Linked DNA regions of Homo sapiens: regions 2, 3, 4 and 5 are each reported to be linked to region 1. Evidence: microRNA targets listed by miRTarBase, many of them from high-throughput screens and not tested one by one. Region 1 holds a microRNA gene; each other region holds the end of a gene's coding sequence.
Evidence for each region. Region 1 holds the annotated microRNA hsa-miR-122-5p (UGGAGUGUGACAAUGGUGUUUG, at 2,399-2,420, shown strand). A microRNA usually pairs through its seed, bases 2 to 8, with sites in the 3' UTR of a target mRNA and lowers its output. Matches are read on the target gene's strand: a 7mer-m8 pairs with bases 2 to 8, a 7mer-A1 pairs with bases 2 to 7 and ends in A, and an 8mer does both.

Region 2: the mRNA of SLC7A11 is a reported target of hsa-miR-122-5p. The part of its 3' UTR that is shown has no 7-base or 8-base seed match.
Region 3: miRTarBase lists BORCS7 as a target of hsa-miR-122-5p. Seed matches in the 3' UTR shown: 7mer-A1 at 767-773.
Region 4: the mRNA of SLC38A9 is a reported target of hsa-miR-122-5p. The part of its 3' UTR that is shown has no 7-base or 8-base seed match.
Region 5: miRTarBase lists SNX22 as a target of hsa-miR-122-5p. Seed matches in the 3' UTR shown: 7mer-A1 at 1,014-1,020.

What each region holds. Positions count from the first base shown.
Region 1 is chr18:58,448,690-58,453,719 of GRCh38, forward strand. MIR122 (microRNA 122) reads left to right here and starts at 2,385; the gene lies at 2,385-2,469. It overlaps MIR122HG (MIR122 host gene), which reads left to right. Exons shown (of 3, transcript NR_170245.1): 2 at 620-851; 3 at 2,130-2,592. MIR3591 (microRNA 3591) reads right to left here and starts at 2,463; the gene lies at 2,391-2,463.
Region 2 is chr4:138,168,682-138,173,711 of GRCh38, reverse strand. SLC7A11 (solute carrier family 7 member 11) reads left to right here. Exons shown (of 12, transcript NM_014331.4): 12 at 1,695-5,030. The coding sequence ends at 1,756. SLC7A11-AS1 (SLC7A11 antisense RNA 1) reads right to left here. Exons shown (of 7, transcript NR_038380.1): 4 at 4,894-4,995; 5 at 2,006-2,179. Among named protein-coding and RNA genes, the nearest start is that of LINC00616, 41 kb to the right of the region's middle.
Region 3 is chr10:102,862,533-102,867,562 of GRCh38, forward strand. BORCS7 (BLOC-1 related complex subunit 7) reads left to right here. Exons shown (of 5, transcript NM_001136200.2): 5 at 341-2,429. The coding sequence ends at 392. It overlaps BORCS7-ASMT (BORCS7-ASMT readthrough (NMD candidate)), which reads left to right. Exons shown (of 15, transcript NR_037644.1): 5 at 341-400. Among named protein-coding and RNA genes, the nearest start is that of AS3MT, 4.4 kb to the right of the region's middle.
Region 4 is chr5:55,622,574-55,627,603 of GRCh38, reverse strand. SLC38A9 (solute carrier family 38 member 9) reads left to right here. Exons shown (of 16, transcript NM_173514.4): 16 at 945-1,756. The coding sequence ends at 1,110. Among named protein-coding and RNA genes, the nearest start is that of SLC38A9, 87 kb to the left of the region's middle. RefSeq lists an enhancer at 1,448-2,262.
Region 5 is chr15:64,154,314-64,157,313 of GRCh38, forward strand. It overlaps SNX22 (sorting nexin 22), which reads left to right. Exons shown (of 7, transcript NM_024798.3): 7 at 74-3,000. The coding sequence ends at 195. It overlaps PPIB (peptidylprolyl isomerase B), which reads right to left. Exons shown (of 5, transcript NM_000942.5): 4 at 2,412-2,596; 5 at 1,504-1,832. The coding sequence ends at 1,710. Among named protein-coding and RNA genes, the nearest start is that of SNX22, 4.1 kb to the left of the region's middle. RefSeq lists enhancers at 1-98, 1-133.

The DNA.
Region 1 (5,030 bases):
TATTGAGAGTCCAGAAAGAAAATTGCCTAAAAGTTTTTAAATCCTCATTTTTCTCAATAAAAAAGTGCCATATGAATCATAAATTAACAAATGCACACAAAAGGAGAAAATGAAAACAAACCATAATTTCTCTACTGAAAGATAACCATGGTTAACATTTGATGTTTTGGCCTCAGGCATGTATGCATTTTTTCACAGAAAGGGACTCATACTGTGTATATTGTTTTATAAACTGTTTTTTAATTCAATAACATATCTTGAATTTCCAAGTCTACCAGACTTTTCTACAGAATCAATTTAAATAATTATGGTCTATCATAAATATATTACTCTTCTCCTATAGCTGGACATTTAGGTTGTTTCCAATGTTTACCCTTATAAACAATGCCACTATGAGCAACCTTATAGGTAAATCTTTCTACAAATTTTTGACATTTTCCTGGAGATAGATTTCTGGGCCATAGAAATTGAGGTTGATTTGGGGTGGGGGGAGTTGGTAAGATTTACCTGTAAAGGTTGATTTGGGGGGTGGGGAGTTGGTAAGATTTACCTGTAATGCATTAACTTCCTCATCTCTTTTCATCTTCCATCTGTTCCTTCCCTTTTCTGTATTTTGCAGATTATTCAAAGCCAAAAGCCAACAGAGCCCCCATGGAGAAGTGGAGGATGCTCAGATACTGCTATGGAGCCCTGAGAAGTGAAATGGGTCCAAGCCCTTGCCCAGGATAGAGCGCTCCAAGCGCATCCTCCGGGGACCCTTTTAATCAGTGAATTGTTCACCTCTCACTGTTTCTTCCCAGCAGAGCTAAGAGACTTCTAGAGCCTCTTGTGGATGGTCAGCGATAGCCCTGGTATGACCAGGAGGTGGCGATTTCTGTTCTAGGTCCCTCAGCAAAGACTAAGCAGGACAAGCCTGGCTACTGTGTTAGGAGGAGCTGTAGGGAAAGGGAAGGACAAGATGGGCCACCACATGCCTGTGTCCACTGCTGGCCACACCCAGAGTGCTAGGGGTTTGTGGCAGTGACTGGGGCCACCTAGAGCAGTTCTAGGGTTCGTAGTCATTCTCTCTGAGTCATGGAAAACTGCCCAGGAGGCGAGTCCCACCTAAGAGAGTATGTGTAGCACTGGCACGGCCTGCTGCCTTGCAAATGACCACATTTCATGAAAGAAAGCCAGGGCCACAGACAGGAACCAAAGGAAATCAGTCACTTAGGGGAAGATAACGAATCCACAAAGTGAAAAAGGGAAAGAAAAAAAGAGGCAACTTCAACACTCCAACCCATGGGAGCAGAACGACTTTCAGCTTTCGCAGGGGGATAATCACTGCAAGTCCAGCTTGAAGAGGGTGATTTCAGGATCTACATGAGAATAAGGCGCAATTTTTTTTTTTTTTTTCTGAAAAATACGGAAGGGTTCATTTACAGCTGTTAAAGATGGGCCGGTTTTAGGGCTAAAGCAAGACTCTGGTCAGATGTTAACAACTCAGTTATCCTGGGGAAAAAATAACTGGCTCCCAACCCTTTCCCTTTTCAGCATTTGCAGGAAAAGAAGGAGTAGGTAAAATGCTTTATTTCCTCTCATTCTCCATGGTGGGCAGGAGTTCACATAACAATTATAAACCATCTTTAACAGGAAAGCCAAGTAAATCCTGTAGGGATTTATTTGGAGCTCCCTTTTTGCTAGAAAATGAGTATCATGAACTAAAAATGGACTCGTTTCCTCTCTCTCCATCTTCCTCTCTTTCTTCTCTCCCCTCATCTCCCACCCACCGCCATGGTGGAAAATGACTGTGGTCAAGAAGATTGAACATTTGAGCAAGACCAGATGCCTTTATATCCAATAGATGCCACGGAGAGTAGATCACAACACATCTAACTGCTGTATCCCCATATAAAATAATTTTAATTTTCCTAGACTGCAGAATTGATCACATTTACTGATGATGGATTGGGAAGTAGGTGAAGAGGTGAGAGTTGGAGAGTATCCATTCATTCGGCCAGATTATTCTCATTTATAATGTAGTCTTCCAATAAGTATTTATTTCCAGAAATCTATTCCCTCTAGAGATTCTTTCTCTCTCAGCCATTTTAGAAAATTGTTGCAAACAGAGTTCCTGTCCATTTTCACAGGAAGTTTTTGCAGAAGGGGTTTGCTGGGTGGCAGTGGAACACAGGCAGTGGACCCCTCTACTACTCTACTGTTCCAGAACACAGAAGCCTTTCATTGAGAGTGTTCAGCTCTTCCCATTGCTCAAGATGCTTGTACCCGTGATGCTTCTTTTCTCTGCTTAGGTCACAATATGTGGAGCTGACAAGGTTCCCCTATTATCAGTGACAATGGTGGAATGTGGAGGTGAAGTTAACACCTTCGTGGCTACAGAGTTTCCTTAGCAGAGCTGTGGAGTGTGACAATGGTGTTTGTGTCTAAACTATCAAACGCCATTATCACACTAAATAGCTACTGCTAGGCAATCCTTCCCTCGATAAATGTCTTGGCATCGTTTGCTTTGAGCAAGAAGGTTCATCTGATATCAGTCTTCTCAATCTTGTGTACTTACTGAATAAAGTCTGGCTCTTTTGCACTCATAACCAATATGGTTAGCTGAACCCTGCCTCTCACATGCTGTTGTTACATACCTTAGCTGGTGATTAATTTTCTTGTTTTCCCAAGTCAATAAAAAGATTGCAGACCAGGCACGGTGGCTCACGCCTGAAATCCCAGCACTTTGGGAGGCCAAGGCAGGCGGATCACTTGAGCTCAGGAGTTCAAGTCCAGCCTGGGCAGCATGGTGAAACCGTGTCTCTACAAAAACTACAAAAATTAGCCAGGCATGGTGGCATGTGCCTGTAATCTCAGCTACTTGAGAGGCTGAGGTGGGAGGATCAATTGAGCCCACGAGGTTGAGGCTGTAGTGAGCTGTGATGGTACCACTGCACTCCAGCCTGTGTGACAGAGCAAGATCCTGTCTCAAAAAATGAAAATAAAAAGATTGCAGAGTTCCTCAGAGCCCCCAACACAAGGCCAGGCACGAGGTAATCATTTAACCCATGCTTATAGACTTAAAATGAATAGTTAGGAAAGTGTTAGACGCAGAAGGCTAAGACTGGGCTAAATCTATGTTATGCAGACAGACCGCAAGCTTATAGGTACAAAATTAAGGTGTGTGGGTCCTTCTCTTTTCGTCGTTAAAAAATCCAACTTTCTAATAAACTTACACATGGTTTCACTGACGTTTCAGAAATTCTAGAATATGTTTGATTTCTACTGATTTCAATCAATTACTAGGCTGATTACTGAATTCGTACACTAGGCCTTTCTTCCTCTTGCATCAGTGAATTACCATCAGAAAATTGTTTATGAAGCATGTGTGAGCTGCCATAGCAAATCTGGGACCCATGCAGTTTCTAGGACAGTTGGCCCAGCCAGGTGCTCTGGTTTGGAACCCATTCTGTCTCTGAGAGGTGTCTAAAGTCAGGAGTAGGTTTCGTTTGTGCCAGACTAAAGCTTCCCTCCCCAGGCTTGGTTAAATGAAGTAGGACATGTTTAATCAAATAGACAGGGTTAGATCAACCATCAGAAACAAATTCAACCATTCAACCATTCACTTATGAAATAAATATGTGTAGAGACTACCGTGTGCCTGACACTGTCCTAGGCATTGAAGACACTTTTAAATTAAATGTGTCTGATGTTATTTCCAGAGATGGGCATTCACTGGCTCGCATTATATTTTGGGACCATTGTAATTGTTCCAAACGGGAGCCAAATGAGCAAAACTTTGCGAAATAATTCTGAGTCCCTTGCTGGAAAGCCTCACCTGAATGCAGCCCACACATTTATGATACACTACAAAGGCTTCAAGGTCATGAGATGCCTCTGTCCAAAGAAGAAGAAGAGCACCCCTGCCTGCCCTGCATCTCTTACCACCTCTCATTTCTTCCCTCCTGGCACCATCTACTGTCAAGAAGAGAATCAGACTCCCTGAAATAATTGAGACACTGACATTCCTTTTTGTGTGTATTTTTTTGGCAAAGGCTCTAATTGAACAGGCATTAATAGAGGGCTCTACTGTTATACAGATCACGCTCATGCACACTGTATTAGTCTGTGTTTTCATGCTGCTGACAAAGACATACCCGAGACTGGGAAGAAAAAGAGGTTTAATTGGACTTACAGTTCCACATGGCTAGGGAGACCTCAGAATCATGGCGGGAGATGAAAGGCACTTCTTACGTGGCATCAGCAATAGAAAATGAGGAAAAAGCCAAAGTGGAAACCCCTGATAAACCCATCAGATCTCGTGAGACTTATTCACTATCATGAGAATAGCAGGGGAAAGACTGACCCCCATGATTCAATTACCTTTCCCTGGGTCCCTCCCACAGCACGTGGGAATTCTGTGCGATACAATTGAAGCCGAGATCTGGATGGGGACTCAGCCAAACCATATCACATGCCATTTCATTTGATCCATACAACATGGGGCAAAGATGATCGGTTTGACAAACAGAGTCTAAAGGGTTCTGGAATCGTCTGGTCCTCCAGCCACAACTCAACATGGATCTCTTAAGTCTAAAGTTCTGTCCTGTACCTGCAGCCTCCTTTGGCCTAGTTATTTTGTGAAATCTCATGCTTCACAGTCGAATCTGTGTAGAACCTGGGTTAATCACGCCAGTATGCGATCAATATCCTCATCTCCCCATCTGCTTTGTCAGTGGATTCTGAGGGAAAACCTGTAAATTAGAGAGGGATGAGCCATATAAGAATGTCTCCTTGTGAGTGTTCATTGTGCAGAGAAAGCTGAAAATTGCAAAACCCTGTAATCATGAAATGAAAGAGAAGGAACATCTAAGTGGTAGCTTTGGGGTCAGGAAGAGGGTAGACAAACTGTCCCAACACCAAGCAGCCATCTACATGACCCAGCCACCTGATGTGGCACCAAATGACCCAGAGTCTTGAGGTTCTGAACTGTTCCCAGACTCGGGGACAATGTGAGGACTGGGTCTTCCATGCTCCTTTTCACTCCCACT
Region 2 (5,030 bases), not on the chromosome of region 1:
TAAAATTAGTGGGCTGAGGACAGTATCTTTGACAAACACAGAAGAAAAGGATGAAAAAAATACTTTTTTTTTTTTTTGAGATGGAGTTTCATTCTTGTTGCCCACGCTGGAGTGTAATGGTGCAATCTCGGCTTACAGCAACCTCTGCCTCCTGGGTTCAAGTGATTCTCCTGCCTCAGCCTCCTGAGTAGCTGGGAGTACAGGCATGCACCATCACACCCAGCTTATTTTGTATTTTTAGTAGAGATGGGGTTTCTCCATGTTAGTGGGGCTGGTCTCGAACTCCCAACCTCAGGTGATCCACCCACCTCAGCCTCCCAAAGTGCTGGGATTGCAGACATGAGCCACTGCACCCGGCCTGAAAAAAATACCTTTTAAAATGTCATTAAATATGGCTTGAAAGGAGCTATTACAGATAACAAGCCATGAATGAGGAGAAAGACTCTATGTCCAGATGAAAGACTATCTGGGCCTGAAACCATCAAGAGGTCAGGCTGTAAACAGCTCCAGGACTAGCAGGACATTGAAAAGGTTCTGTAGGAATTCATTACAAAGATAAGAAGCAAACTGGCTGGGCATGGTGGCTCACACCTGTAATCCCAGCACTTTGGGAGGTCGAGGCAGGCAAATCACTTGAGGCCAGGAGTTCAAGACCACCCAGACAAACATGGTGGAACCCCGTCTCTACTAAAAATACAAAATTAGCCGGATGTGGTGGCACATGCCTGTAATCCCAGCTACTTGGGAGGCTGAGGCAGGAGAATCGCGTGAATCTGGGAGGTGGAGGTTTCAGTGAGCCGAGATCGCACCATTGCACTCTAACCTGGGCAACGAGTGAAACTCCGCCTCAAAAAATCAAAACAAAACAAAAAAAGAGGCAAACAAGAACTAATGTCCCCAGAAACCAAGGTCATAGAGTTCTAGAACTGCTAAGATAAAATGACCTTAGAAATCATCTAGCTCAATGGTTCTGAAGGAAAAAAGGTAGACTTCCTTCTGAACACTGGAGCCAGCCTTTCTTGGGATGCCCTCAGTTCCTACATTTTTGTGTCTATCAGAATTACAGACTGCTAGGCCCCATCTTCAGTTTCTAATTGAGTAGGTCTAGGATCGAGCTTGAAAAGATGCATTTCTAGTATGGTAGTTGATGCTAATTTTGTTGGTCCAGGGACCGCACTTTGAGAATCACTGATTTAGTCTCTCATTCTACTGATTAGGCAAATTAGGCCCTAGGAGATAAGACAACATTCTCAATAACATGTTACAAGTTAGAGAATGAAAATTACATTCTGATTCTCCTCCAGATTCTTCTGAGGAACTGATTGTAATCTCATAGGTGCAAAAAGAATAAACCAATTTTAAACTGATATAAAGTGTATTTTTAAACATTTATTTATATATTGGTCCTACTGTTTCAAAATATTTTCACCCTTCTGGTCCATGAATAAAAATCCTTATTTGAATGCAAAATATTAATGTATTCTTGCTGAGAAGCCATCATGGGAAGTTACAGAAGTGACAAATAAATTAATTGAGCATGATAGAATTCTAATGAAGTAAATAATTCTTGAAAGTGCTCTATGAAGTAGACAGTTGTGTGTTTTTGGTATTCAACCCAAAATAATTCATATTTTGCTATTTTTAATGCATTTCTGATTTCCATGCATTTTTAATTCATTTTTATTTCTTTGTAGAGAAAATAACCAGAACATTACAAATAATACTGGAAGTTGTACCAGAAGAAGATAAGTTATGAACTAATGGACTTGAGATCTTGGCAATCTGCCCAAGGGGAGACACAAAATAGGGATTTTTACTTCATTTTCTGAAAGTCTAGAGAATTACAACTTTGGTGATAAACAAAAGGAGTCAGTTATTTTTATTCATATATTTTAGCATATTCGAACTAATTTCTAAGAAATTTAGTTATAACTCTATGTAGTTATAGAAAGTGAATATGCAGTTATTCTATGAGTCGCACAATTCTTGAGTCTCTGATACCTACCTATTGGGGTTAGGAGAAAAGACTAGACAATTACTATGTGGTCATTCTCTACAACATATGTTAGCACGGCAAAGAACCTTCAAATTGAAGACTGAGATTTTTCTGTATATATGGGTTTTGTAAAGATGGTTTTACACACTATAGATGTCTATACTGTGAAAAGTGTTTTCAATTCTGAAAAAAAGCATACATCATGATTATGGCAAAGAGGAGAGAAAGAAATTTATTTTACATTGACATTGCATTGCTTCCCCTTAGATACCAATTTAGATAACAAACACTCATGCTTTAATGGATTATACCCAGAGCACTTTGAACAAAGGTCAGTGGGGATTGTTGAATACATTAAAGAAGAGTTTCTAGGGGCTACTGTTTATGAGACACATCCAGGAGTTATGTTTAAGTAAAAATCCTTGAGAATTTATTATGTCAGATGTTTTTTCATTCATTATCAGGAAGTTTTAGTTATCTGTCATTTTTTTTTTTCACATCAGTTTGATCAGGAAAGTGTATAACACATCTTAGAGCAAGAGTTAGTTTGGTATTAAATCCTCATTAGAACAACCACCTGTTTCACTAATAACTTACCCCTGATGAGTCTATCTAAACATATGCATTTTAAGCCTTCAAATTACATTATCAACATGAGAGAAATCACCAACAAAGAAGATGTTCAAAATAATAGTCCCATATCTGTAATCATATCTACATGCAATGTTAGTAATTCTGAAGTTTTTTAAATTTATGGCTATTTTTACACGATGATGAATTTTGACAGTTTGTGCATTTTCTTTATACATTTTATATTCTTCTGTTAAAATATCTCTTCAGATGAAACTGTCCAGATTAATTAGGAAAAGGCATATATTAACATAAAAATTGCAAAAGAAATGTCGCTGTAAATAAGATTTACAACTGATGTTTCTAGAAAATTTCCACTTCTATATCTAGGCTTTGTCAGTAATTTCCACACCTTAATTATCATTCAACTTGCAAAAGAGACAACTGATAAGAAGAAAATTGAAATGAGAATCTGTGGATAAGTGTTTGTGTTCAGAAGATGTTGTTTTGCCAGTATTAGAAAATACTGTGAGCCGGGCATGGTGGCTTACATCTGTAATCCCAGCACTTTGGGAGGCTGAGGGGGTGGATCACCTGAGGTCGGGAGTTCTAGACCAGCCTGACCAACATGGAGAAACCCCATCTCTACTAAAAATACAAAATTAGCTGGGCATGGTGGCACATGCTGGTAATCTCAGCTATTGAGGAGGCTGAGGCAGGAGAATTGCTTGAACCCGGGAGGCGGAGGTTGCAGTGAGCCAAGATTGCACCACTGTACTCCAGCCTGGGTGACAAAGTCAGACTCCATCTCCAAAAAAAAAAGATTATATATATATATATATGTGTGTGTATGTGTGTGTGTGTGTGTGTGTGTATATATATATATATATATATACACACACACACACACACTTTTTATATATATATATATATATATATAGTGGAACTTACAAATGAGAGTAATATAATGATGAAATTTTGAACTGTTATTTATAAACATCTAAGGTAAAATGGTTAGTCATGGCCAGAGTATGTTTCATCCTTTAATTTTTGTCCATTTGAAAATAAGGATTTTTGAAAGAATTATACCAATTAAAATTATTAAAGGCAAACATAGAATTCATAAAAAATTGTCCAAAGTAGAAATGATGACCTATAATTTGGAGCATTTCCAATTCAGTAATTTCAATTTTGCTCTTGAAAACATTTAATATATATCCAAGACTGACATTTCTTTAGCTGAACCTAACGTTTGGGTCTCTGAGTGAATTTATAATAACTCCTTCCTTCCTTAGCATAGGGTTTTCAAAATTTGATTTATAATTCCTATTTCCAGTAAATATTGTTCATTTGTCCACATCTCTCCCTATGATATGTTGCTGGAGGTAAGAATTTCTTTCATATTCCTATTTTTTTTTTCCCCATAGACTAGGCTCATAGAATTTAAACAAGCAAATTTTCCTGAGCTTTTTCTTGCCAAATGAAAGAAGACTGGTAAATTCTCATAGAGAGGTTTGTGTAGTTCTTGGCTCTTCCTGGGGTTAATGTGCTTATATTCACAGTGGCAAATTGGTCTCAGACTTTAATTTATTTATTTTTGATTTGAATTTCTCTTTAAAAGTATCAATTTAAAAGGTAACTAGAATTATTCTTTCTCATTTTCAAAAGTGATTTTTGCATTATTAAATTTCCCTGCCATTGTAATGCCATTTCACGCAGAAAAAAAGTCAGCCAGTAATTAAGAAAAAAAGTGATGGAGATTAAGTAGTATTTTGGCTTATTTTTAGGACTCATCATGAGAAGACACAGTTCCTTTAATCAGGAAATTAATATCCATAATTTTCACTCAAAATTGCAGTATGTAAAGCAGATTCTCAAAAACTCTCCTGAACACTTATTTATATATATGTTTTTATATAAGTAAAATTTTTCTCATATTTTTATACGATATGCACACACACACATACATGCACATACTACTTACTACATGTTCTGTACTTGTACTTTGTACCATGCATATTCAAATGTTTATATACATAAGTTTATTATAACATAAACAGTAAAAGTAATGAATACTGTTTAAAATAACTAATATAGTATTTTTTAATTTTTGTGGGGATGGATTCTCAAATACTTGTGATTTTAAAAGATTCTAAAGCTAAAACACAACTTGATTTTAAAAAGAATGATTCTCCTTACACAATTATAAATATTTGCAGTAAATATTTTCCTTATAATACTGTTTTGACCCCATTTAAAAAGTATTAGATTATATTCCTTTGATCCAATGAAAACTGAACCTTATAAATGGTTAGCTGAAAGTAGACCTTATTCTTGTCCTTCTTTAGAAGAGTAAAGATTTGTCCTAGGGAAGATGGCTGACTTCGGTTCCCAACATGCGTATGCATTTAGACTGTAGCTCCTCAGCCCTGTGGACACAAAATTTGGACAGCTTATTAGGTTA
Region 3 (5,030 bases), not on the chromosome of region 1:
GTTTACATTACTAATTGGCTTTGCAAACCTTTCTTCAGAGTTTAAACACTTCTGGGACACAACTGGACCAATATAAATTTTGATTTACATGCAACAGTATTTATGCATTAAAGTACAGATAGCTTGTACAGGACAGGTGTAGTGGCTGGCTCATGCCTGTAATTGCAGGACTTTGGAAGGCTGAGGCTGGAGGATTGCTTGAGCCCAGAGTTTGAGATTGCCTTGTGCAGCATAGTGAGACCCTGTCTGTAATGGAAAAAAAAAATTTGTAAATAGTTGTACAAAGATGTCTTTATTATTGCTCATTTCAGATAAACCCTGTCTCTATTCTAATTCCTAGTGTTGAACAGTCATCGGATCTACAGGACCAGTTGAATCATCTGTTGAAATAGAATGACATGTAAGAGTGCTGTAGGACTCCTTTGCCTAATGCTGAGGAGTAAATACCTTACACAGCTGTCCTCTGGGTTTGGTTTTCTATTTTCTTCTCCAAAAGTTAAGTTAGAAAAGTTCTGTGTTAGGGCCGGGCGCGGTAGCTCACGCCTGTAATCCCAGCACTTTGGGAGGCCGAGGCGGGTGGATCACGAGGTCAGGAGTTCGAGACCAGCCTGGCCAAGATGGTGAAACCCCGTCTCTACTAAAAATACAAAGAATTAGCTGGGCGTGGTGGCGGGCGCCTGTAATCCCAGCTACTCGGGAAGCTGAGGCAAGAGAATCGCTTGAACCCAGGAGGTGGAGGTTGCAGTGAGCCAAGATCGCGCCACTGCACTCCAGCCTGGGCGACAGAGTGAGATTCCATCTCCAAAAAAAAAAAAAGAAAAAAAAAAGAAAAGTTCTGTGTTGATGTACAGTTTCTCCTAAGAAGAAGCGAGGTGGTTGAATTTTGGAAGCACTTCTTGAATCGGATTAACCCATGCTCTTATTGAATTTTTTCATCTGCTCTGTTTAGTTTGATATTAAAGCAAAATTAAGAGGTCTTAGTTTTTCCTATAGAACTTTTAATATGTCAAAAGCTATATTGTCTAAATTTCAGTACTTAAGCAAATACTGAGTAGTGTTTTAAATTCAGAAATAGAGCTTCTATTATGAACACATGAGAATGATTTTTTTCTCTTAATCATTATTAAGGAAATATTTTAATTTCATGGTCATATAATGGTGATAAGTAATACCTGATTGTTTCCTTTTCTGTTCTAGTAACTCAGAGGAGATACGTGTTTTATTTGTGATAGCAAATTCCTAAATGAACATTAGGCAAGTGGTATCATTATCAGGCCAGCTGCAGCCTCTTGCCTTGACCTGCATTCCTAGAATTTCTTTGTTGCTGTAATTCTTGATTAAGTGACCTTGACTTTCATTTTGTAATTTTGCTAATCATCAGCAAATTCACTTGCATGACGTTACTGCCAAATATGAAGGCAGTTGAATTATTATGAGTGATTGTGGCAGAGGTTTGTGCCATGGTGAAAACTTTGATGTTTGTCTGTGTTCATTGGATCCATCTTTTTAAATGACATTACCATGAGTCTGTTGTCAAACCTAAATATCTTTGTTTGAATTTAAAATGGGACTCTATATTGTTGTAGTTCAGGTCTTCATTGACTAAGAGATTGAGAGAAATCTGACATAAGAAAATATTGTTTTCACTGCAGGAATAAAGAGGAAGTAACAGTGAATCCAATATAGTTCATATTGTTATTGTCCAATCATCAAGTTAACTAAGCATTATCAGATTACGTTTATTTCTCATACATATGGATATTAACTTAAGGTAAAAAAGCTGGATGTGAAGGATCTGAAAAGGCATTAATTTATGTACTAATTCTATAAACATGTATTAATAATTGCAGTATTATTAAATACAGATGGACTCAATGTACCTTTGAAAAGACCACTAATTTAGAAAACAAAGCTAAGTGCAGTCATTACAAGAAGCAAAGAAATACTTAAGTTAGAAAAAAATTAAAATGAAGGGATGGTCTAAGTTTTCTTCATGCTGGAACAAATGTTAAAGAAGCAGTGATTGCTTACAATGTATGTGATAAAATAATACCTTTCACAATCAAAATTTTAATAGTAAATATAAGATAAAATTTATATTAAATAATGAAAACGTATTTGTACTGAATTTAGTCACTAGAGAACATCGTAACAAAATACATGAAACAAAAGTAGCCAGAAATGTTAGAACAGGTGGAAATGTATACATTATTTGATGGTTTGTTTTTTTATGGAAATAAACAACATACATAGAATTAAATGGTGATCAAAAACATGGAAAAAATACTTCACTAAATAACGTCTAAGTTGTAGAGGTTGTGCCGGAAGATAATATTTTTAAAATAACAAATGTTCAAATGCCATAAAAGAAAATTTGTGTGATAATACCAAAGCAGTACTATAAGAAAATAAGCATGCTTTAAATCCCTGTATTAGGGATAGAGTGGAAATATTTTTGTTTTTTTTAAGGGGTATATAGTTAGAATTTAGAAAGAATGGAAATGGAAATAATAAAACTAAACAAATTAGAAAAAAATAACAAATTAGAAAAAATAAAAAGTATTAAGTAGTTCTTGTAGATTAAATGGGTAAAGTGTCAGCTCAGCCAGAAAAGTACAAATTAGTAAATTCGTAATTGAATAGGCAATACATAAAATCAATGAGATTTGAAAAGAGTTATCAGTTTGCTGCAAAAAATGTGATTAATATATGCCCAGCTCCTTATAAAGATAAAAAATTATGAAACTGACACTTTTAACAGAGAATATTCCAGATTGGTTATGAGAAATAACCCACAAACTAAGAATAACCAATTAAAATGGCATTTGCTTGTGAAAGCTTTCATGAGACTTTTCCAAACTGTCAAAGAACATATACTCCTGGCCGGGTGTGGTGGCTCACGCCTGTAATCCCACCACTTTGGGAGGCCGAGGCAGGCGGATCACAGAGTCAGGAGTTCGAGACCAGCCTGGCCAACATGGTGAAACCCCGTCTCTACTTAAAAAATACAAAAATTAACCAGGCATGGTGGCACATGCCTGTAATCCCAGCTACTCAGGAGGCTGAGACAGGAGAATTGCTTGAACCCAGGAGGCAGAGGTTGCAGTGAGCCGAGATCGAGCCACTGCACTCCAGCCTGGGTGGCAGAGCAAGACTCCATCTCAAAAAACAAAACAAAACAAAACAAAAAACCCCTATACTCCCAAAATATAGAAAATGATCATAAGACACTAATTCATTTAATGAAGTAAACAGGATTTTCATTTTAAAAATAAAATTATGTAAGAAAGATGATGCAAGAGGATGTAAGATAATGTAGGTGATTTTTTTATGAGTATAGATGCAAAAATCCGAATAAAATCTTAGAAAACTGAATAGAGAAATATTTTGAATAATTGTTCATGTAACTCCAGAATTTCAAAGTTGATGTAATAGTTACAAAACACATTACATTAATAAGAAATAATAAAATCTTTTGTCACTATAATATATACCAAAAAGGCATTTAAAATACACTTTCTATTTCAAAAAAACTAAAAGAATTTTTTAAAAGGGTATGTTTTAAAACCCAACATAATATTTGATGAAGAAGAGTCGTATAAAACCCCAGAATATTAGAGCTGTATGGGGCCTTAAAAGTTATTAAATTCTGGCCCCATGTTTTACAGATGAAAAAAACACAGCCAGGAAGATGAAATGACTTACCCAAGGTCACTGAGCTTGATGGTAGGTCTTTTGACTACTAGTCTGGCTCTATTACCTGTTAGTTTCCTTATGCATAGAAACAAGGGTGCCACCTTCATTACTAGTCTTCAACATAATACTAAAGAGCTCTTAGAAAAGGAAAGGATCTTGAAGTAGCTGAATCCAATCCATTTGCCCCTGCTTCTGCATCTCAGGTGAGCCATCATCCAGTCATTCATCTGCTTCTGCTTCCGATATTTGGGGAATCCTTTACTTAGGAGTGCTGATCCTTTTGGAAATCTCCACTTCTTGAAAGATGGTTCTGTGTAATTAACCAAAATCTGCCTTTCTGGATAATCCTGGAATTGTCACTCCAGTAGCTTCCAAGATAGAATGTGTGACGGTGTGCACAGGCCTCTGTTAAAGGGTAGGGGAGAAAATTTCTATGTATGTTAGTTTTTTATCTTAAAAAAATTAGCTTTTGTGAGGCTGGGCGTGGTGGCTCACGCCTGTAATCCCAGCACTTTGGGAGGCCGAGGCGGGCAGATCACGAGGTCTGGAGATTGAGACCGTCCTGGCTAACACAGTGAAACCCCGTCTCTACTAAAAATACAAAAAATTAGCTGGGCGTGGTGGCGGGCGCCTGTAGTCCCAGCTATTCGGGAGGTGAGGCAGTAGAATGGCATGAACCCGGGAGGCGGAGCTTGCAGTGAGCTGAGATCCTGCCACTGCACTCCAGCCTGGGTGACAGAGCGAGACTCTGTCTCAAAAAAATAAAAAAGCTTTTGCCAATATTTAAAATATGACTTGATGTGAGAGTCTTAATTTCTTCTACGCAGTATACAGATATATAGCATTCCTGTCATTTAGCAGGGGTGATAGTAAAACAAAAAAACAAAAAACCCCACAAAACCTGTGGTGAGGCACTGACCAATCAGAATGATTGATGGTCACAGTCTGGTCCAAAATTAGCCCCCACACCAGACACCATGGAGGAAAAGTGAGAGTAACTCAATTTAAGTTGACAGTGGTTTGTTTTATTGCAGTTTATCTGTGTGTGAATAGGTAGATTTAAGGATTGTTGGCCAGGTGTGGTGGCTCACACCTGGAATCCCAGCACTTTTAGGAGGCAGAGGCAGGCGGATCACTTGAGATCAGGAGTTCGAGACAGCCTGGCCAACATGGTGAAACCCTGTCTCTACTAAAAATACAAATTAGCCAGGCATGGTAGTGCATGCCTGTAATTCCAGCTACTTGGGAGGCTGAGGCAGGAGAATCGCTTGAACCGGGGAGGCAGAGGTTGCAGTGAGCCGAGATTGCGCCATTGCGCTCCAGCTTGGGCAACA
Region 4 (5,030 bases), not on the chromosome of region 1:
AAATAAAAAGTTATTTTTAATATATGTATAACTTTTTGGGATTACCTGGGAGGTCCTTTATTTGTCAGAGCTTCCTTAATCCATTCTAAGTTCCTTAATCCATTTCTACTCAAAAGTATTTTTCAATGTCAATTGTAGTCAAAAAGTAAGAGTTTAAGTAAGAATTTAGACCCTAGATGGCTTTCTTTAATATCCTTTTCCTAAAAACGTGACAGGATGAATAGAGTAGGAATAAAGTTGTACCTCAAATTCTCATGGGAAATTGGGATTTAGAATGATCTGATTTCTCTTACTATGGACAGCAGGAAGGAGTCATTTTTTTTGGAACACTCTTACCTAAGAAAGTAACAAGGAACAAGAAGGGGAGATTGTTAGCCTGATGCTTATTGAATATAAAGGGCTTACCAGTTCCTATTGAACTGTTCCTCAAGAAAACCCAAGTATAGAGAAAAGGAGAAGAAAGTGCATATTTCTCTGTCACAGTCTCATGTTTAAGTATTTTTGTTATTATCTTTCGTAATCATGCTGAATGCCATGGTAGCATTTATCTGTTCTTATACTTAAACCGGGATGCTAACGGTCCCTCAAAAACTGAGAATGAGTAATTAGTTTATAAAAGATCAAAGATAGGAGGCCTAGCTCCAGATGTTTCTGAGGAAGTAGCCACAATCACCAAATACAGAGGAACTACAGAGATTTGAGGGATGAATAAAAAGTCTTTGTTAAGCAGATGCTATAAAGATGAGCAGGAAATCATATTTTATATTAACTTAGCAAGTAAAGTAAGTTTTAAACCCAGATGTTTTATGTCAACAACAAATGAATCAAAAATAATTTTTGTTGAGCTATCAGACTGAGGAGGATTTAAATTGTACTATGTTTACCTTAATTGTAAAAAGCAAAGTGCAAGATGAATATTAACCCCAAAAGCTTTTATTTTGCAGATATTCAGGAGCAGCATGTGGACTGGCCTTTGTATTCATATACCCATCTCTCATCTATATAATTTCCCTCCACCAAGAAGAGCGTCTGACATGGCCTAAATTAATCTTCCACGTTTTCATCATCATTTTGGGCGTGGCTAACCTGATTGTTCAGTTTTTTATGTGAAATACCTCAACTGTTTTTTTCAAGAGCTCTCATGATATTTTGAGCCTTGACAACAGTTCTATATAAATTCACTTGTAAATGCTGCTGTTGTGTAATTCTAAATATTTTCTAAGATAATTTGAAAGCAAGGGAAATAGTGGCCCCTTAATGAGTATTTTTTTATTGGGGTGGGGAAAGGGGCAAAAAGAATGATCTTAGTGTCTTTACCTTTCTCATATTAACTCACCTCTTTATTCTGTGGTCTTTTCTGAATAGAAATGTATGCCCTAGGAAGAAATCATGCTGGGTTTTGCTTTTAGAGATAAAAGGTGGTGGATTTATTTTGCCTGCAGTAAAGATTCTCAGGGTGTCAGAGCAGCATATTGTCAAATCCTGCTTCTGTTTTATGTTTCAGTGTATTCACTTTCATTTTCTTACTTACTAGACCATTTCTGCAGTTTGCCCAAACCTCTACTGTTTGGGACAGTAAGCCAAATACCTCATTTTTAAAAAGAAGTTTTCATGGCATCAGTGTTAATAAAGTACATTTTTAACTGAGTCTTAATCTCTATTTGAAGAAAAAGTAGAGACAAAAGTAATGTCAATGTAATCCCCAGGATCATGAAATGTATACAAAATAAATAAAGTAGGAGAGTTTGTTGCTGTCTAACTCCTCTTTTATTTCTAATCCAGTACCAGTGACTTAGATCGAAATTACAGTTCCCCAAGCCAGACTTTGCATAAGAACAAGAATGATTGTCCCCATAGACCCAGGGGGTGCTTTTGCTTTTTGGATCCCTGAGATCCCAGCGTAGGCTGTCATGATGGACCCAGTGGGGAAAGCATGGCAGAGAGGAGCCTGAGAGGCCCATAGGGGAGACGGCGAACAGAGAAGGGGCCAGGGAGGAAGAGGCCTCAGCCCAGCATATTTTGTGTCCTCTGGGGGTGGACTGGTTTCTGCACCACAAAAAAGGATTGATTTTGTTTGAGGTATGACCTTCAGAAAGAGACCTCCATCTGCTTACTTCTGTAACTGGCAGTACTGTTACAGGAAAGGGGTCCTGATCCAGACCGTGAGAGAAGGTTCTTGGATCTTGCGCAAGAAAGAATTCCAGGCAGGTCCACAGAGTAAAGTGAAAGCAAGTTTATTAGGAAAGTAAAGGAATAAAAGAATGGCTACTCCATAGACAAAGCAGCCCCGAGGGCTGCTGGCTGCCCATTTTTATGGTTATTTCTTGGTGATATGCTAATCAAGGGGTGGATTATTCATGCCTGCCCCTTTCAGACCATATAGGCTAACGTCCTGACATTGCCATGGCATTTGTAAACTGTCATGGCGCTGGTGGGGGTGTAGCAGTGAGAAGACCAGAGGTCACTCTCATTGCCATCTTGGTTTTGGTGGGTTTTAGTCGGCTTCTTTACTGCAACCTGTTTTATCAGCAAGATCTTTATGACCTGAATCTTGTGCCGACCTCCTGTCTTATCCTGTGACCTAGAATGCCTTAACCATCTGAGAATGCAGCCTGGCAGGTCTCAGCCTCATTTTACCCAGCTGCTATTCAAGACAGGAGTTGCTCTGGTTCACATGCCTCTGACAGTACAGAGTTAAAACCCTGTGAGAAAAACTCCTTAAATCTGAGAAAAAGATTAAGGAATCTGGATCCTTGGAATCGACGCTCTTCCCTTATTTCTTCTGAACTAAAAGCTAAACTAGTATCCACATTCACGTTTTCCAAGTAATACAGCCTCTGTGTCCAGGTCAGGATACAACATGGTGATTTTTTTTTTCTGAAAAAATTAGATTTCTCTAATTTTAAGCTAAAGTTTAAAAATCTATTGTATGTTCACCTCTCAGATAGTGTATGGATTTGTGTTATTTCCTTCCTTTGAAAAAGAAAAATGGTTTTTGCAAACCTAGTAAGGAGCCCAGATTCAAGATCAGCCTTAATTTCTTTCAGCAAAGCTTTCTGTCCTATTCATAAAGCCATAGACCTATATTAATGATGAACTGTATTTCCTAAAGCTCGTTTGTTTTAATAAAAAGTCTCATTATGAAAATCTCAAGCCCACACAAAAGTAACATGGAGTAATACGGTGAACCTCACAATGCCTATCCCCTAGATTAATAATTATAAAACTTGGCTGTATTTGCTTCACCTATCTTTTTTTTTCTTTTCCACTGAAATATTGTCAATCTCAGATGTTATTTCATCACTACAAACCTTAATTTACAGCTATTAGTAATAGCCTTTTGAACATAGTTACATTGATGGAAATAGTCTCAAAAGTTTTTGTTCACATAAATTGCTGGTAGTAGGAGTTCGGTTAATTGGAAAATTCTGCAGTAGGTGTCAGATCACTGTGTTAATTTCTCTTAGAAAAGGAGTATAATGAATGGAGAAAGTGCTTCTCTGTGCTTGAGAGCCCCTGAATCTTTATGACTTCAGAATCTTATTCAGTTAAGAGACATAGGATTCAAAAGCCAGACAGCACTGGGAGCGATCTAGGCTTAATCCCAGTTTATCCCCAGTCACCTTCCTTCTCTGTAAAAACTTCAGAAACAGGGCTGGGCACTGTGGCTCATGCCTGTCATCCCAGTTCTTTGAGAGGTGGAGACAGAGTTTCATTGCCACTTTTCAATAATGTACTTGAATGTTTTAACACATGGAAAAAATGATTTAATATATTTTTGTCCATTTAATGAACTAAGTGAATATGACAATGAATGAGGTATTTACTAAACTAAAAGACAATGTGAATCTTTGCTATTGTTTCTTTAAAAGACTTGATGTGAGGCCGGGCATGGTGGCTCATGCCTGTAATCCCAGCACTTTAGGAGGCCAAGGTGGGCGGATCACATGAGGCCAGGAGTTCAAGACTCAGCCTCGCCAACACAGTGAAACCCCGTCTTTACTAAAAATACAAGAATTAGTTGGGCGTGGTGGCGTGCACCTGTAATCCCAGCTACTCAGGAGGCTGAGGCAGGAGAATTGCTTGAACCCAGGAGGCGGAGGTTGCAGTGAGCCAAGATCACGCCACTGCACTCCAGCCTGGGTGACAAAAGCGAAATTCCATCTCAAAAAACAAAACAAAACGAAAAGACTTGATGTGGGCACAGCTGTGATCCCAGCTCTTGGAAGACTGAGGTGGGAGGATCACTTGAGCCCAGGAGTTCAAGACCAGCCAGGACAACATAGTGAGACCCTGTCTCTACAAAAAAATAAATTTAAAAAAAATTAGCTGGGCACAGTGTCATGCAGCTGTAGTCCCAGGTACCCAGGAAGCTGAGGTGAGAGGATTGCTTGAGCCCAGGACATCAATGAGCCCTGATTGTGCCACTGTACTCCGGCCTGAGCAACAGAGTAAGACCCTGTCTCAAAAAAACAATTTTTTTAATTAAAGAAAAAAATAATTGGCTGGGTGTGGTGGCTCACACCTGTAATCCCAGCACTTTGGGAGGCCGAGGCAGGCAGATCACCTGAGGTCGGGAGTTTGAGACTAGCCTGACCAACATGGAGAAACCCCCATCTCCACTAAAAATACAAAATTAGCCGGGCGTGGTGGCGTGTGCCTATAATCCCAGGTACTCAGTAGGCTGAGGCAGGAGAATCGCTTGAACCCGGGAGGCAGAGGTTGCAGTGAGCTGAGATCGTGCCATTGCACTCCAGCCTGGGCAACAAGAGTGAAACTCCATCTCAAAAAAAAGAAAAAAAGACTCGATAATTTAGAACTTCTAAAATCTTGTATTAGACTTACGCTGTATGACTTTGCCTTCTTAAGTTTTTTTTTCATGAGATCAACTCTTTGGCCTATTATTTGGCTTGGTCAGAGAACTCTTTGTAAGTGTGTATATCCTGGCCCACACATTAGAATGATGAGATATGAAGTCATTCATATCTCAACTAATTTTAGACCTTCTTTGTCTGCTGTCATCTCTTTGA
Region 5 (3,000 bases), not on the chromosome of region 1:
GGGGCTGAGCCCATGAGCAGGAGCTCAAGGAGCTGCAGGTCTGAGGCCAGACCTGTTTAATTCTATCCCACAGAGTCGCTGCCCAACGTGGTGGTGAATGGTGTGCTCCAGGGCCTCTACAGCTTCAGCATCAGCCCAGATAAAGCCCAGCCAAAGGCGGCCTGTCACCCTGCTCCTCTGCCACCGATGCCCTGATCAGTCCAGAGGCCTTTGGCTGCCTCCTAAGAAAGTCATGTGCCTCTGTCCTATGAACTCCATATAAGGCTGGGTCCTCCTTTGGCCTGGACCCAGGACTTAATTACCCAGTGCCCAGTTGTGCCACATTCCCACTCAAGGCTCAGAACTTGGCTCGCATTGGTAGCTGGAGGTGGTAGAATTTGTATGCTCTTAGAGCCCAACAGCCAAGGCAGGGTCAAGAAGATAAGTAATAAAAGAGGAAGTCAGCCAGGCGCGGTGGCTCATGCCTGTAATCCCAGCACTTTGGGAGGCCAAGATGGGTGGATCACCTGAAGTCAGGAGTTCGAGACCAGCCTGACCACCATGGAGAAACCCCGTCTCTACTAAAAATACAAAATTAGCCGGGCATTGTGGTGGTGCATGCCTGTAATCCCAGCTACTCGGGAAGCTGAGGTAGGAGAATCTCTTTTTTTTTTTTTTTTTTTTTTTTGAGACGGAGTTTCACTCTTGTTGCCCAGGCTGGAATGCAATGGCACGATCTCGGCTCACGGCAACCCCCGCTTCCCGGGTTCAAGCAATTCTCCTGCCTCAGCCTCTCGAGTAGCTGGGATTACAGGCATCCGCCACCATGCCCGGCTAATTTTTGTATTTTTAATAGAGATGGGTTTCACCACGTTGGCCAGGCTGGTCTTGTACTCCTGACGTCAGGTGATCCACCCGCCTCGGCTTCCCAAAGTGCTGGGATTACGGGCGTGAGCCACCGTGCTCGGCCCAAGGCAGGAGAATCTCTTGAAGCCAGGAGGCGGAAGTTGTGGTGAGCCGAGATCGCGCCACTGCACTCCAGCCTGGGCAACAAGAGTGAAACTCCGTCTCAAAATAAATAAATAATAAAGGAAGAAGTCAGCTGGGTGCAGAGGCTCATGCCTGTAATCCCAATACTTTAGGAGGCCAAGGCAGGAGGATGCTTGGGTCTGGAAGTTTGAGACCAGCCAGCGCAACATAGTGAGACCTGTCTCTACCAAAAAAAAAAAAAAAAAAAAAAAATCAATTTAGAGGTAGGCTATGAAAAAGTACAGATACATCCCTTAACATAGACTGGAGGGTGGTGGCAAGGGGAGCAAATGTGGAGGCCCAGTAGCTGGCAAAGTTTAGAAGCAGGGGGCAAAAGCTCCTGCCTGACTTTTCCTGGGTAGCTCCTGGGTCAAAATTTCAGGCAGGATCCCAGGGAAGGGGCAGGCACCCATTGCCACAGGAGAGTTGCAGGCATGTTGGGATGTAGGCCTAGGGGAGGTGCTGCAGGCTCAAGAACCAGGCCCACACATTATATATTAAAAAAAAAAAAACCCACATTTTTTTTTATTGGTCAGTGTTGGTAGGAGTTTGTTACAAAAGTGAGTCCATGGGCCTGTGGAATGTGAGGGGAGTGGGTCCGCTCCACCAGATGCCAGCACCGGGGCCAGTGCAGCTCAGAGCCCTGTGGCGGACTACAGGGCCTGCACAGACGGTCACTCAAAGAAAGATGTCCCTGTGCCCTACTCCTTGGCGATGGCAAAGGGCTTCTCCACCTCGATCTTGCCGCAGTCTGCGATGATCACATCCTTCAGGGGTTTATCCCGGCTGTCTGTCTTGGTGCTCTCCACCTTCCGCACCACCTCCTGGAAAAGAAAGGTGGAAGCAGGAGGGCATGGTGGATCAGGAGGTCCACCGCTCAGGAGAAAGGCCCCAGCGTATGGCTCAGGAGGGCTAAGACCCACAAGTGATCAACAGCACACAAAACTGGAGGCACCAAAATTCTAACAGACTCCTGGCCAGAGCAGGGAGAATGCAGATTTGACGAGGGGGTACAGGAATTTTGTTCCTTTGAAGTAAGACCCAGGTTGGGCCAAGGGTGAGGAGGAGGAAGAGGGTGACCAGGGCATGTGGCTTCTCAGGGACATTGCGTTCAGCTGCACTCTGTATACCTCAGGGGTGGGACCAGCACGTCACTGAGTGAAGGAGGGGAGGGAGGCTCTGGCAGTTGTGCAGCCTTCCTGGCTGGGCTCTGAGGGGGCTGGAAGAATTTAGAACCTTGGAGGCATGGAGGTACAGGGTTTATTCTGGACAGGAGCACTGGGCTGCATCTGTGGGTTGGGTCCTTTTGGGAAAGGGATGGACACATGGAGCTCCTGCCCTGGGGTCTGTGTTGAATCCCCGGTGAGGATTGCCCAGTAGTAGCCCTTGCTTCCACAACTCACCATGCCCTCTAGAACTTTGCCAAACACCACATGCTTGCCATCTAGCCAGGCTGTCTTGACTGTCGTGATGAAGAACTGGGAGCCGTTGGTGTCTTTGCCTGCGTTGGCCATGCTCACCCAGCCAGGCCCGTAGTGCTTCAGTTTGAAGTTCTCATCGGGGAAGCGCTCACCGTAGATGCTCTTTCCTGGGAAAAAAGACAGAGCAGGTCAGGGGCGCTGGATTGCGCCAAACCAAGCAGACATTCGGGGCCAGGACTGAGGGGGCTTAACCTGTCCTCTGTGCCAGGCTAGGCTGGAGTGGACTACAAGGACATAAAAGCAGCGTCCTTCCTATCTTCTGGCCTCAGAGCCAAGCCATGCTGACTGAGGCCAAGTGGGGCATCAGGCCAGGCTGATGTGGTGAACAGCTCACAGAAGGATTACTTTGAGAAGATAGTTTTGTGGCTTTTAAATAAGGCGCATGTTATCAGCTCCCCTTAGCTATGGCCCAGGCCTGCCACGGAGGGACTTTGGTGGAGGGAAGTGCCGTGCAGGATGCAGGGGAGTCAACAGGGTCGGAACTCTCCAGAAAAGGAGGACTGCTGTGGCT